2 separate regions of the Homo sapiens genome follow, and region 2 is linked to region 1. Evidence: fine-mapped expression QTL. Tissue or cell type: whole blood. Region 1 holds a variant in brackets; the other region holds the start of a gene. All regions are shown on one strand. Distances are from middle to middle.

Region 1 (8,105 bases):
CTTTTCAATGAATGGTTAGCAAAGGGTTATTCATGGGGCTTCCAAATTTGGGTACAGCCTAAAGCGGGCATGTCTATTGCTTTTCACTTTTTGTCTTTGGTCAGGTACAAAGGCTGGTCCAGTTCAAGGCTCTTGAACTGCTCAAATACAAACATTTCTCAGAAAGAAAGAGTAGCAGGAAATAATGAGAGGGTGGTGGGAGCCAGGCCTGAGGTTTACAATGCCTGGCTCTTGTCTCAGAGCTACGTTCTAAAGTTCTGCTTACATGCAGTCTATGCCCTTTCACTGGACAGTGATTAATGCAGAACACTAGAGTTCTGGGTGGGCTGCAAGGGCCTTACAATGAGAACTAAAGATGGGCCTTTCCTTTTGGTGAAGTTGGGTATCAGAAGAGAGTTAAGTAGCTTTTCCCAGTGTGAGCTCTTGGCTCAGTTGCCAAGAAGATATTACTCCAAGGGCAACACTTGCTTTCCCAGGGGATGACACATACATTTTCCTTCTTCCTAGACTCTGAAAATGTCTTTACTCTCACTTTAAGACCCATGCAAGTCAAAACAAGGCAGGATTCAAGTGGAAGTCAAAGTCACATGATTTAAGCCAGTATTATTAGAATTCTGCATTATGGAGTATTAGGCATGGTCCCAGGTAATACAAATATTTCCTTTGTTTTCCAAGTGTTATTATTTTGCAATGCTATGTCTCCCTCAAGAACCTTGTAAGAGAAAGGGTGATTTGCATGGCAGGATTCTGAAATTCCTTAGCCCTCTTGCAGAGTCCTTACCTTTATTTTAATTCTACTAGCCAGCTGCTCTGTACATGAACCTGTTTATATCATGCTATTGTCTACTTCCCTTCAGAGAATAAGCCGTGGCAGCTCAAGTTAATACTTGTTTTGAACTTTCATGTTTCCTGACTCATTTATCATTGCTAAGCCAGTAGGTGTAACTGGAATACTTTACTGCCCCATCCATCTCTGCATATCTTCATCTATGACTGTTTAATAATTGATGCAAAACTCATGAATCATTATACATTCCAATTTCAAGATACTGAAACTTCTGATACAAATACTCTTGTGTTTGCAGCATGCTCTTTGGTAAGGCAGTTTAAACTGGAAAATATACTGCTCAAGACAAAATAATTTTGTGATATGGTAAGAGGATGTAGTAATAAGGTAGCAAGTTTAGAGATAATAACGTCATTTGAAATCATGATCCACAGAAATCAATTCATCAAGTTCAACATGGCTTTCACCTTTAAATTGTAAGTTTATATGACAATTCCACATTTCATTAACTGCTCAGCCTAATCATGCTGTTGATCAAGAAACTACAAACTTGAGCATTTTTCCTCTGTTGTATATAGATGTGGATAAAGTACACAATGACTAAAAACAAAAGCCAGAAACAGCTAGAAAGGTCAGATGTAGTTAAAGTGATTTTTAAAGGAAACCCTGGGTAGTGTGAAGTTTGCCTTGCTCCAAATCTATTTGTGCTGATTTAATTTCCACAAGATGGTGGCCTGGTAACCCCATTTCTAGCTCAATAGGCACTATTAAGGCTGAGTTTATTATTTTTTTTTTAAATCAATCTCAGCATCCTACAAAAGTTCTAGACTGGTAATTTCATACATAAAGTATTATTTACCTGAATAATAGATATTGACTTAACAATGATACGCATGTGAGGCTAATGATTGTGAGGCTTACGGAAACAGAGGAATCTCCTAGTTCATCCCTAGTCTCTTGCAGTATCATGCTAGGCTGGAGTCTATGCAATGCCAGAGAATTGAGTTGAGGCAGGCACCTGGATTATTAGGTGATATACAACTCACATAGGAGGGTGACTGTTTTGATAAAATGGAGACTCAGTTTAGACTTAGGATCTAAACTCAAAGTCTACAGATGGAATATCTTACTGACCAGGTCACTAGCACTGACCTCTCAACATCAATCATAGAGATGGAAATGCAAGGGTAATGCAATTTAGTTTTCAGAGCCCATTAAATGTTTTATCTTTCATCTAAGAAACATTTGGTAGATAATATCATAAAGTCATTTACCCTACTTGCATCAGCTGACTAGTTCTGCCTACTCAATACCTGGCTTTATTTCTGATGACTGGATTGGGTTTTGGTAGTTTTCGCCTTCAGCTAAGATAAGAACAGAAAATATATTTCATAGTGAATGATAATGGTGAAATGATCATAGTTACCAGGTTTGTGTTGAGAAGGTTTTGCGGGGTCACTTCTAGGCTGGGGTGCCATGATTAATGGGTAATGAATCTGGGTGGGTGGTGGGGGAGGTAGGATGTGTATCATTTGTCATCCCAGCACAGAGGCTTCTAGCTAGACTGGCAATGACTACTTTGTGGATCATTAAACAAACGGGATTCTTAGGTGTCCTGATGGGAATTACAGTTGTTCCTCCCATCCATATAAAACTGTGGTCTCCTTCTTGGGTCCTGGATCACGGTCCAAAGTCAGCATCCATTTTCTCTGATAAGGTTTACTTTACCAAAGTAACTTACCAAGTTTTGGTAACTGAAATAGTGCATTTGAGCATATTTTCCACAAATAGGGGGTTGGGGAGGGGATAGGAAAAAAGTCTGGTTATGGCCAAACCCAAATACTCCTACTGGGATTATGCCAAGATGACCTTGTTGAAAGATGTTAATATGTCATAAAATTTAGAAAATAATCAGTCAATAAAACAGTTTATGTCAAATGATTGCAATTTTGTCAAAGTGTTTTCATTTCAGAATATATCTTTTCTCTTTTTTTTTTTTTTGGCAGAGCTAGCTGAGGTTTTATTTTGGACAGAAAAACAAAACAAAACAAAACAAAAAACAATTGAATTGTTTTGTGGCTGGAGGCATGGGCAAGGGGCGGGGGTCCCCAGGCAGTGAACTCCCCCGCGGGTGGGCTGAGGGCTAGGGCTGAGCCTCAGGTAAGTCTCCTGTTCCCTGTGCTTCCTTGCACAGCAGCCTCCCTCCTAGGCTTTGGGGCAGCCGTAGGAGGGGCAGGCTGGGAGGGGCTGCCGCAGCTGTTCACTTGAGCAGGAAATCAGAGGACACCAGCTTCCCATCTCGGGTCTTGATCTTCTTCACAACCATGGCCCTGGTGGAGCTGGTGCGGCTGAAGGAGCTGGAACCTGCGCCAGAGCGAGAGCTGGAGCTCAGGCCGTAGCTGAGGCCAGAGCCTGTGAGGCCCCCATAGGCCAAGCTCACACCACCTGCATAGCCGCTGGTGGTCTTC[G/A]TATGGATACTCATGTTCTCCATCTTCCAGCAGCTTCCTGTAGGTGGCGATCTCGATGTCCAGGGTCAGCTTGATGTTCATCAGCTTCTGGTAGGCACGCAGCTGCCGCGCCATGTCCTACTTGGTCTGCTGAAGGGCGGCCTCCAGCTCGGACAGCTTAGCGTTGGCATCCTTAATGACCAGCTCCCTGCGCTGCTCCGCATCTGCGATGCCGGCCTCCAGGGAAATCCTCCCGCCTTTGAGGCCCTCAGTCTCAGCCTGGAGCCAGCTGATGTTCCGGTTCATCTCAGAGATCTCAGTCTTTGTAAGACGCAGGTCTTCCCAGCCAGCGTCTGCAGCTCCTCATACTTGATCTGATACATGCTCTCGGCCTCAGCCCGACTGCGGTTGGCGATCTCCTCGTACTGTACCTTGACCTCAGCGATGATGCTGTCCGTGTCCAGGGAGCGGCTGTTGTCAATGGACAGCACCACAGACGTGTCCGAGATCTGGGACTGCAGCTCCCGGATCTCCTCTTCATACAGCTGCCTGAGGAAGTTGATATCGTCAGCCCTTCCAGGCAAGACTCCAGCTCTACCTCGTTAATGTAAGCTTCATCCACATCCTTCTTGATGAGGACAAATTCATTCTCCGTCTCTGTACTCTTATTGATCTCATCCTCATAGTTGTTCTTGAAGTCCTCCACCAGCCCCTGCGTGTTGCCAAGCTCCGCCTCCAGCTTCAGCTTCTCCTGGCCCAGAGTCTCCAGCTGCCGCCTAAGGCTGTTGATGTAGCTCTCGAATATGTTGTCCATGTTGCTCCCAGCCGTCTTCTGCTGCTGCAGGAGGCTCCACTTGGTCTCCAGCATCTTGTTCTGCTGCTCCAGGAACCGTACCTTGTCGACGAAGGAGGCAAACTTGTTGTTGAAGGTCTTGATCTGCTCCTTCTCCTGGGTGCACACAGCATGGATGTTGGGGTTCACCTTCAGGTTAAGGGGGTTCAGCAGGCTCTGGTTGACTGGGACGGCAGTGATGCCTCCCATGCCACTGGCCCCACCATAGGCCACCCCGGAAGCTGCTGCTGCCCACTCAGGAGAAGCTCAAGGAGCTGATGCAGACACCAGGCCCACTCGTGTAGGAGCAGCTGCAGAAGGCCCGGGTGCCAGAGGTGGACACCTTGTAGGACTTCTGCACCCTGATGGACATGGTGGAGGCAGGAGTGGAGGCAGGCGGGCTGAACCAGGCGGAGATTCCAGAAGGAGTGGAGAAGCTGCTTCTTGGTAGAATATATCTTTTCTAACAGGTAAAGCAATATGTACACTTACAGAAACTTCTGTTAATGACAAGGTGGCACTTAAAATATAAAACTAAGTTTCCTTTACAATCTGACTCTCCTACAAGTAATTGTTAATGACTACACATACCCACACACTCTCTCTCTATAGACAAAAGTTTATCAGAGAGAATCCAAAATTGTACTTTTTGGTGTAGAACGTACATAATTTATTTTCTTATGGTCTTTTTCTAAATCTTCGGTATTTTCTATATTTTGCCATAACCATAAATACTTGAACAATTTTTAACTTGTAAACAATTTTAATTTGTTTTCAAACTGAATGAAAGATTTTAGCACTCATCTCAGCAGCTTTAAAACTTTTTAAAAATTTAAAATTTATATATAGGCTGGGCACGGTGGCTCACGCCTATAATCTCAGCACTTTGGGAGGCTGAGGCAGGTGGATCCCTTGAGCTCAGGAGTTCGAGACCAGGCTGGGCAGCATGGTGAAACACCATTTCTACCAAAAATAAAAAAAATTAGCTCGGCATGGTGGTGTATGTCTGTGGTCCCAGCTACTTGGGAGGCTGAGGTGGGAGGATCACTTGAGCCTGGGAGGCAGAGGTTGCAGTGAGCCGAGATCATGCCACTGCACTCACACCTGGGCGACAGAGCCAGACTTGGTCTCAAAAAAAAAAAAAACACTGTATATCTGTATATCTATGTATGTGTGTGTGTATGTGTGTGTGTGTGTGTGTGTGTGTGTGTGTGTAAAATTCACTTTTTGTGGCATCCAGTTCTAAAGGTTTTGACAAATGCATAGAGATATGTATCCATAACCACTATCATGATATAGAACAATTCCATTGACCCCAGAAAGTTCCTTCATACTGCTCTTTTTAGTGGACAATTCTTCCAAAAGAAGTAAAATTATGGGAATAAAATGAACTGATAGATATAAGAGCTTGTAAGAGTTAAAAATGCTGTGTAGATACAGTGTCTCTATTGATATGACTCAACTTGATTTGGCACCAATAATTATTTTCTTAGTACACAGAGTCAAAGATTTTTTTTAATCTTTCTGTCTAGATGTTATTACTATTTGGGATTCTGTTTGGATGGTATGGAGCTAAAAAAAATTCATCAATACACTTTTGCCAACCTGCATCCAAGCTACGTTATCCATGAAGTATTCTACCTTTTCACCTATGCCCTTGTCTAAATGGAACTATGTTTGAGTTCCTGATTCAGTAGCGTTACCTTCTTAACTTGACACTGCTTCTCACACTCATTTAGTTTGGTACTAAAGACAGAAGTAGTAAATACACAGTTCTGATTACACATGCCACATGCTTGCTATCCTTGACCTACTGTGTGTAATACGTTCTGTTTGATCCAGAATTGTTTCCTCTGTCATCCAATCAGTGTCTAGTATTTGGATACTGAATATTCTTCCTTTCATTTAATTAATTCTGTGCATACTGGTTTTATCTTCAACCTGGTGCTGGTTTACCTCTTAGATGAAAGAATACAGATAGAAGGGTCCAATAGCTCCAAGTCCCAAGCTCTTATCACAATGGCTGTTTCCTACTTAACCATAAGTGCAGTATTAAAAAATGGGCACTGCTTAAATGTCAGTCTGACCCTGTAGATCAAGCCCATTAATGGCATGTGTTATGTCATGGCAGATACTCTTGGTTGGCTACTCCTACTCAGAATCTTTCTTCCTTGCCTGCCTCCTACTGTCCCACTGTAGAGGCTGGAAAACCCACATACTTGCTTTTTAGCCTCCCTTGTGGCTAGGGGTAATTGTGTGACCCAGATCTGGCCAATGAGGCATACAGGAAAGTCTACTGGGGAAGCAGGAGCGGGACAGAGATTCTGGGAAAGAGTTTTCTTCCCTGAATAAAAGGAAGTAAGTGAGGGAAGGCCTTCTGACCGGACTCTTCATTGCTTCCTGCCTTTGTTTGTAATTAAATGTGTTCATAATACGTGGGGCTGTGGCAGCCATCATGTGACCATGAGGTAATAAGCCTATGGACTTTAAAAGGCTAAGAAGCTGAGTATGACAGATGGGAGAATGGGACAATATCTTTGATGACACTGTTGAACAACTAAAACCTACCTTAAGACAGCCTATGTCTGAAATTGTTAAACCCTGTGGTTTAAGCTACTGTTAGTAAGTTTTCTGTTATATTCATCTAAATTCATGCTACTATACATGTCTTTCCATCTTTGTTTTCCTTATAGCACTTTGCACAGGGCCAGGTTATTAATGCATGTTGAGTTGGAAACTCCCTTGCCTTACAACATATTTGCACAAACTCTCACATGCACATTTCCACTTTACTCTACCACACAACCAATTTTCCTTCCCACTTGCTTGATTCCTAGTATTAAGATGATTTGTGTTTTTCCTCCTTCCCCTGCTGTGGAGATGGTGTATTATTTTTCAACCATTCAGATATGAAAGCAGCTTACTGGGATAGAATGCCAACCCCAATTTATTCATGGTGTTCATTGTAAAATTATGACTTCAGAGGGACCTAGCCACACCCTCTTTAGGAGCCAAGCTTTCCCTGCTAATATGCAGGAAGCCCACCATGCTTGCTGAGCTGTGAAAATCCAGATGGTGGGAAGCAGGTGAGTAATGAATGCCATGCTGTTCCCCTTAAAATGCACACAGCTTCCCCAGGCTGACCAAATCTCCAACACTAAACAGGTTTGAATCAACCCAAGGACATGTGGGTTGATAAAGATTGCCTTTTATTCAAAACAAGTTCCTGCAACATAGAAGCCTAGAAGATAAAATTTTCCCATAGTTGGAACAAAACTTGCCTAAAGGGCAAAGGAGTCTTAAAAATTATAAGTCTCTGAGTACAGAAAAATCCAGTGGGAAATTGATAGCAGTCCAGACTTGCCTACATGCCTGTGTGGTTTACAGTGGAATCTGCTGTCAAGGTGTTTACCATCTGTCACCCAATTTTTCAAAAAGCAGAGGAGTAATTAACTGCTCAGGCAATACAAACTCTGTCAATCATTCAGATCTATTATCCGCACAACATGGGACATCTATGGCTGACCCCAAAGTCAGCAGGACTCCAGGTCCAAAATGAGAAAGTTCTCACATCTGTGGGGGAATGGGAGTTCTTGGGCAGGCCCTGTGCTACCTGCTACCCAAACACACATATTATGGCATCTGGCACATGTTTGGTCAGAAATTTTGCTTTGCCAGATGTTCTGAAGTCAGTAAGACATGGTATCCACTTTGTGGAAGCTAAAATTCCCCATATTTTGGGACTGGCTCAGGTATCACTTCCTTAAGAAGCCCTGTGTGACTTCTTTTAAGCCCAACACAGCTCCCTTTATTATGCAGCCTCATTGCTCCCCATACTTTGCCTTTATAAGTTATCACCACTAATCATTAGCATTTATCACAATGATATTAGAATCATTTATATGCCTGTTTCAGTCTCTTCATTGTAAACTTCACAAGGAACTTGTTCACCACTAAACCCTCAGTGCCTAGCTGAGTCTCTTAGTATATAACAGATGCTTCTCAATCTTTTTTTTTCTATGCTCACAAGTCATCAAGC
Region 2 (8,105 bases), 170 kb after region 1:
TGAGCAGGTAGGAGGAAAATGTAGAAATAGTAAAGGAAACAGAAAAGCAAGATCTATGGAAGGACTAGAAGCTAATTCCCCACCCAGTAAGAGGGTATAAGTTAATAAGGGGGAAGAAAACTTGTGGGGCAAGTCCCCAGTGAGGAGAATTTTTAAAAAGTCTTTTGATCTGGTGCTTTTTCAAGGTATACTAACACTTCTTAAGGAATTCATTGGAAGAACAGGGACTCTTCCCCCTCTGGCAACAAAATTGCATGAATCTTCCCTGAAACGAATAGGTCAAAACTGTAGGGAACTTCTTGTTCTATCCAACTTCTGGTATTTACATCGTTTAAGTTCTATTTTCCTTTTCTTTTCATACCTTCTCTAAGATCAGATTTTAAAACCTAGAAGCTTCTGTGAAATAAAGGTTTGTTAGTTTTGAGTGTGATTAGTATGTGTGTGTGTTTGAGAAAGAGAAAGAAATCTGAGAGGTTGATTCTCACATGCCAGAAATCTCATTGCTATAAACTCATATCTATTTTTGACTATGTGAACCTAGATATTCTATCCAGAATCAGAGTTTTCAAAAATGGAATAAAAATAAGAACAACGGTAATATCCAGGGCCCTGAAAACAATAAAGAATGCCATTTTTAACTGATTTCTTCACTTCACAATTGACACTCCTGTACACATAGCTCCACTCTGGGCATTTTCTCAGCTTGCTAAGTTTCTCTTGCCTGCATAATGTAATATACAAGAAAACATGAAGGCAGCTCTCTTTCTTTGTGGTTACAAACAGAAATAAATGTTCCCCCAAAAGCCAACAGACCCAAGGCCAACTTCTCTCTTGGATGACATGCTTAGATACAGAGTTAGTCATGTGCTATCAGGTCACTGAGTCAGTGACAAAGCACTAAGATTGAGGGAGAACATCTTACAATCAGGTTGCCATCATGCACAGAAAAAGAATCGGTAAGTATGGTGCTCTGTATAGGGGAGGGATGGGCTGCACATCTTAAAAGCCATCTCTAAGCTCCTGGAAGCCAGAGCTTACAACTCTGCTTTATCTGTCTAGCACCATGGGCATACTGGGCTTGATGCTCTCCAAAAATGATGACAAATGGAGAATATACTTTCAATAGCACTGGACATTCTTTCTGTCTAGAACTTCCAGGGATGTTTATAGAAGATGCCACCTTTACCCCCAGATGTGTGTGTGTCTTTTTATTTCTTTCAGAGCTTGAACTCTTTTACTCCCCCCATCACATTTCTCTAGCAGTCTTTTGATTTGATTAAATATTACAGAAATGTTAGCATCCAAGAATAATAATTTTAAATTAATACACCTTGCAACATTGTCCTAAAGCATTTCCACATACATTTTCTCGCATGGATATTACAATGTGATAATGCAACACTTTGTATGAGTGGCTAAGGATAAAAGGCCTACAGGTAGAAAATGAAAGCAAAAATGCAAAAGTTTTGGCACTGGGGGAAAAAAATGCCTCTACTCTCTATTCACACACAAAAGGCAGAATGAGATTCCACCTGCTGACTTTCCCTTCCTGCCCGCACAGCACTAGTGCTTATGTCAGAACAAGCTGGGAGAGAGGGAGAGACGACAATTTCACCTCTTGGCAAAGCTCAGCTTGCTGAACCCTTTTGCTTTCTGCTGGCTGTTGATTCAGCAGAAACTACTGCTGCAGAATTCATAATGGTGATTTTTAAAGGCCCCACCGATCGCGTTGCTCACCCCACGTGTCAGCCTCATTCGCTGCCCGCCAGAGCACTATTTCCCCAGCCACCTTTTTATTTTTGCTAATGCACTTCCAAAAGGAAAGAGGTTCGCCCGTCTGCAAAGGGCTTTTTGGGGTTTTGATTGTCTAAGCAGGTAACCTGGCCGGCCGGGGAGATGAATGGGCAGGAAATGAAACCTTGCCCTCCCTGCAGCCACTGAGAGACATAACATCGTTTCGCTCAGGGAGGGGGGACCAAGGTCCTACTGGGCCCCTCCCTTCTTATCTCCCCCCAAGACCCCTGCGAACATCTCGGGGAAGGGGTCATCTGCCTTCCTGGGGTCATCTTTCTGGGCGAGAGCCCCACCCTGAAAAAGCCTAATCCCTGAGGGCCATTTTAACTCCCGTGGGCGCCGGGTCCACCTGCTGCTGAACGCCGAGCTCGCCTCGCGGAGCCCGGATGGATGCGAGGTGCACTGGGGCTGCCGGGGCCAGCCGAGCCCCCGCCCCAGCCCTAGGGCCCGGAGGAGTCTCCGCCACTACGCGCCCAGCTGCCCAGGAAGCACAGTGATCCGCAACTTGCGCCCGGCCCCAACGGCGGAATGCGGCGGGGCTGGCGTTACCTTCGGTCGCATAGCTGTGGTCGCGCAGGAAACTGTTGTTGATTTTGCGGGTATCAATGTCCTCCTCCATTGACAGCAGGCTTACTTGCGTGGGAACCAGAAGCCGGCAGACAAGTATCCATGATCCCTCCCCGCAGCCAGTCTCACAGGAGAGGGGGGCAGGGGAGCCAGTGGGACTGCACCATGGTCCGAGCCTGAGGAGGAGACGGGGAGGCGGAGAGAAAAAAAATAAAAACCCGGCAATGGAGCTGTCACCTCCTCCACTCGGGTTCTGCGAGGCTGCGGCGGCTCCTCCCGCGCGGTGCGCTCACTCCAGCTCCAGTTCCCAGCGAGGATGCTGCGCCTGCCTCCGCTGCCTCCGGGTGCCAAGATACGCCGTGCCCCGAGGGGTCTGGTCCCGCCCGCCCGCCCCGGAGGCGCTCACAAGCGGGTCTGGGGAGATGCCCAACAGGTTCCCCTCCTTGGCAGCCGCTCCAAAATGCAAAAAAGATCCCTCCTCCCCCTGGGAGAGCGGGCAGCCGCGACAAAATGGTGCCTTTCTGGACCCGAGCTGCAGTGGCGAGATGGCAGGGACAGGATTCAGGCTTGCCTGGCCGGAATGAGGGTGCTGGTCCCACGGGAGGGCGGCTCCGGCAGGCGGGGGTAGGGAAGCTGGCGGGGAGCTGGGCAGGGCGCTGCAGCCGGCGCCAGCGCACTCACCCTCACACCCACACGCGCGCACTCGCAGCTGCTGCTGCTGCTGCTGCTGCTGCTGCTGCAGGAGGCTGGAGGCGGCTGGTGCATTAAAGGCGAGGCTCCTCCCAACCGCGTCAGCAGCCCCACGACTCTTTCCCAGCAGCAGTGGTGGCCGAGGCAGAGGCTGCGGCTGCTCTTTGCTGCAGTGGGGCGCATGCAGCCGCGAATCGGCACCTGGGCAGCAAGCGACTAGCTTGCAGGTTCAGGTGGAACGCATAGACGCGCTCTTCCAACCTCCTCCCCTCTCGCGCCACTCAGCTAAGGGCCACGTCTACGCTAGCACCCAGAGCCCCTAGCTCCCTGCCTTTCTCCGGACGCCTGAACTTGAGAACAGCAAAGAGAAGTAGGTTCCTTTGGATAGTCAGGAAGTCTACATCCAGGTCCCTTTTCCTCACCCTTATATGATGCATGTGGTCCCTTGGTGAATTTAAAGGGCGAGGTTTGGGGCTCGAAGCTTCAGAAAAAGAGGAGAAAGTGGGAAGTGCCGCTCAGAGCCTATCTTAAGCCCTCTAGTAGGAATAGGAGGGGGATCAGGGGCCAGAACTTTGCAACTGGTTCCCCCATTCCTAAGAGTCAAAATACCTTCTAACTGTAGGAGGCTGGTGTTCAATAAAGCATCTGTGTCTACACAGGTGGAGGAAAGCACCAGACTAGTAAACAGGATCAGTCTGAAAAAGTCCACTCTCCCTTGCAGTTTGCACTTCGTTTTGGACAAATTATTGCAGCCTCTCCGTTAGGTTTTGCTTGTGCAGGAACACCTTCTATTTGCTGTCAGCATGGAAGGTACATTGAAGCACAGAAACATAAGCATAAGAGCCCTGTGCCCACAGAGAGCCACTGCTACCCTGGGGGAATTTCAGGAGTCCAATTAATACAGAAAAGAGACCTGTCTTCCTACTTCAACTAGGAAGAAAATGTAGAATTCCCTCCCCACCCATGTTTTCCCAAATTTCAAACTCTACTTTTGAAAGAAAATGAGATTACTATTGTTATGAAACAACCAAAAACATTTAATGAAGCAACCCAAATCACTAGAAAGCCAATTTGGAAAAGACATCAACCCCAATCAGTAGAAAGCCAATTGGAAACGACATTTCCTAGGTTTCATCTTGTAGAAGGTATTCATTTCAATGGGTACCACTGTAGGGAGAGACATCAGCAAATGTTTTGCTCAGTTAAGCTCCACAAGTTTAGCTAGATGGGCCCAGAGGGACCTATGAGTTAATTATATACATACAATGCTTCGGCTAACACAATTTAGAAAGTATTTGAAGTTCAGAAAAATGGAAAAACAAGTCCTTAACTGAGGTTGGGAATTGTCATTAGATTTCCATGCAGTATGGATACTTCTGGTAGATAGAAAATGACATCTTCCTCATCTCCAGAAATTGACTGCATATCCCTGGGAGAAAAGAGCAGAAATGTTCCTTGACATAGTTATTTTGTGTGTGTGTGTGTGTGTGTGTGTGTGTGTGTGTGTGTGTGTGTGGTGGGGGGAGTTCAGTTCAACTTTCAATAGATTCTATTTTATTTTCATCTAGTGCTTAAGACTTATACACTTGTTTGTTCAAAATCCACATTTAAAATTTTAGTAACAGGTGAAGACGGGTACAAGTTGATTTAATCCACTTCAGTACAAGTTGTCGTGGCTGGTTCTTCCATGGGATGAGCTGTATCTATCACCGAGGTTCCAACATTCAGTCCTTTTGTAGTTACACATTGCAGCTTCTCTTGGATATTGGCACAATTTGGAGTAGGAGCAGAGTGGGGAAAAGCTAAGTTCATCTCTTAGTGAATCAAAATGATGAGAAGACATTGTGCCTTCGGTTGGAATGATCTTAAAATTGTTTCAGGAGGCCTTGGAATAGTATTTGGGAAAATTTCCCCTGTATCTTTCTGAATCAAGGGCTAGATTGGGACAGAGCTGTGTGATGAATCAGGTAGGCCCAGGCTCATTGGCCAGGCTGTGCTTGAGGAATTTTCCATTGTAACCAATGGGGAGAATGTCCCTTCCACAGATCGAGTCTCTGGGTTTATTTATTTTTCTTTTCACATATGCTGCAAACTTTCTCCTGCATTTATTCAACAGTCCAGGCATTTTTCCTAAGACACATGTTCTGAGAAGGCAGATTGGATAGGTCTCCATTGTTTAAGTAGATTTCAAGGTTTCCATTTGGCCAACTACTCTTTTCTAATATGAGAGAACTAGCTCATCCACCCAAAACCAAGGGGAAAAAAGCTGTTGGCTCTGTGCCATAACACAACGACCTGTGGTGGAGGTAAGGGAGTGAAAAGAGCCCTGTGCACCACTGTGGAGCTGGGGGGCGGGGTGGGGGAGAGAGTGGGGGAGATGGGAGTAGGCTGCAGAGATCAGTCTTCAAAAGACTCACTGGCCACTTCTCTTTTCCTCTAAAATGTCAAGTTCTTTCCAAAAGTGGTGGGCATTTCCGCATGCTATGTTCTTTGCCACTTCCTCATGTCTTGGCATTCAGCCTCTTAACTGTCCCTGCTTCGTTGAGGCATTCCCTGACCACACGATAGTCCTGACTTCCGGTGTTTTCTGCCTCCACATTTTTTTTTTGTCTTTTTCATGTCCTACAGCGTTTTATAATATTTGTTTACTTATTATTGTTGGCCATTTTCACTAGATCTTTTATTTTTATTTTCTTTTTTTATTTTATTTATTTTATTTTTCTGAGCCAGAGTCTCTCTGTCACCCAGGCTGGATTGCAGTGACACGATCAAGGCTCACTGCAACCTCTGCCTCCCAGGTTCAAGTGAGTCTCATGCGTCAGACTCCTGAGTAGCTGGGACTAAGACATGGACCACCACACCCAGCTAATTTTTGTATTTTTCAGTAGAGATGGGGTTTTGCCATGTTGGCCAGGCTGGTCTCAAACTCCTGACCTCAGTGATCTACCTGACTGGGCCTTCCAAAGTGCTGGGATTACTGGCGTGAGCCACCATGCCTGGCCTCACTAGATCTTTTCTATTGACTAACTGTCACTTAGTAGATGCTTAATTATATTTGTTGGAGACAAACATTTCTTAAACAAATGAATAAATTGCTGAATATCTTACTTTAATATTTAGGTTTCATACCTCCCCCCTTCTTAAAATTCATATTAAAATAATCTGTTGTGAGCTGGAAATTTTCTAGCTCATAAGCTGTATTCCTATTGAAATAATTGGTTCGATTTATTCCTGTATGCATATATACGATCAAAATTTACCAAGCAATTATGTAAAGAATTATTCTGGCCAGGTGTGGTGGCTCACACCTGTAATCCCAGCACTTTGGGAGGCTGAGTCAGGCAGATTATGAGGTCAGGAGATCGAGGCCATCCTGGCTAACATGGTGAAACCCTGTCTCTACTAAAAATACAAAAAATTACCCAGGCATGGTGGCACGCGCCTGTAGTCCCAGCTACTCGGGAGGCTGAGGCAGGAGAATTGCTTGAACCCGGGAGGCAGAGGTTGCATCGCACCACTGCACTCCAGCCTGGGAGACAGAGCAAGACTCCTTCTCAAGAAAAAAAAAAAAAAAGAATTGCTCTAGGTGCCAAGGATATAGATTTATATAAAACAGAATTTCTTTCTTCATAGAACTTAAATTCTATCATCTAATTTTAATAACGTGAACTTTCTTAGCAATACAGCAAATGCATTCTATATCGACAGACTATAGTGCAATGTTAAGTGCCAAGGCTCCGATATCATTTTCTGTCACTTATTTTTCTGTCCTCAAGCAAGTTACAAGATCTCCCTAAAGCATCATTTTCTTATCTATAAATTAGGAAAATGAATAGTATTTGTTTCATAGAGTTATTACAAGGATTAAATGAGATAATACGTGGAAAAAATACATTGCTATTACTATGAGTATTTACTTTCGTCATCATCACCATCATCAATGTTCAGCAAATGTGCAAGTACTTAACTATGTCAGACACTGGGATAGGATTATAGATTCAGCAACATCAGTGTATAAGATGTAGTCAGTCTCTGATGTCATGGAACTTAGTGTCTAATTTACAGTTTATGTAAAAGGGGCCATAGTCTTCAAAGGGGGCAGCAGAGGGAACTCTGAAAGACTGACCTATTTCAGGCTTGTGCTTTACATAGAAAAGGCCAATTACAAATACACAGCCTTCTTATGTTACCCAGTTCAGTATTGACAGCATGTGGATACATTCGTTTTTTTAACCACCCTTGTCATGGTCCCCTCCCCCAACACTCACATACCCACTCTTCCTTCCTTAGGCTAATGCTTCCTACACAGGAAACTTTTGGGTCACCCTGTCCAATTAGCACATTAAATATCTATAATTTTATTAAAACCTTTGACCTAAGCCAGTCTGGAGATTCTTAATAGAGGCTTTAGGTGTCAGACAGTCCTGGTTTGTGTCCCAGCTCAGGCATTTATAAATTTCATGACCTTTGGTGAGTAGTTTAACATCTCTGAACCTCTATATTTGCAAAATGGAAGAAAACAATAGTTGCTACTTCACAGGGTTGTTGGGTGGCTTCAGAGGTAAGGAAAGTGCTTAGTCCAGGTTTGGCTCAGAGCCAGCCTTCACTAAAATGACCCTTCTTCCTCCTGCGGTACTTCATGAGATCTCCCACTTGCAGAGAATTGGAGAGATGCACTCCAAGTCAATTGTTCATGTGAACAGAAGTGACCTAGAAACCTCAGTTTTACTGCCTATCAATCTGTCTTAATGAACAATTAGAAACTGGATACATGAAATTTTATCATCTTGCAAAAAGCCCTTTATAAACCATGAAGTCTCCTGCAAATGAAAGGAATCAGGATTATCTTCTCTTGGACTTTCTCATTATGTATGTGCAGACCTAGTCACATTTCTCTATTGTGGAATCATATGGAATTTCTCTCTATGATCACTAAGCACCAATTGCACAACTCTCTCTCTAAGGTGGTTTACGTGCTGTCTAGAGAATGACCTCTTGAATTTCTAGCAAGTTTGCAATTCCTGTTTGTGCATGCTACAACATGTAATGCCACA

What was found. PIP is the estimated chance that this variant, and not a neighbour inherited with it, causes the effect.
Region 2: PPP2R2B starts here. The variant in region 1 is fine-mapped to the expression of PPP2R2B in whole blood (INTERVAL, PIP above 0.99).

Annotation. Positions count from the first base shown.
Region 1 is chr5:146,703,160-146,711,264 of GRCh38, forward strand. The region is part of intron 2 of PPP2R2B (protein phosphatase 2 regulatory subunit Bbeta); the gene reads right to left. It also overlaps the pseudogene KRT8P48. Among named protein-coding and RNA genes, the nearest start is that of PPP2R2B-AS2, 140 kb to the left of the region's middle. The variant G/A (reference allele first, on the strand shown) is at 3,256.
Region 2 is chr5:146,875,659-146,883,763 of GRCh38, forward strand. It overlaps PPP2R2B (protein phosphatase 2 regulatory subunit Bbeta), which reads right to left and starts at 3,099. Exons shown (of 10, transcript NM_181675.4): 1 at 2,933-3,099; 2 at 2,344-2,537. The coding sequence starts at 2,413.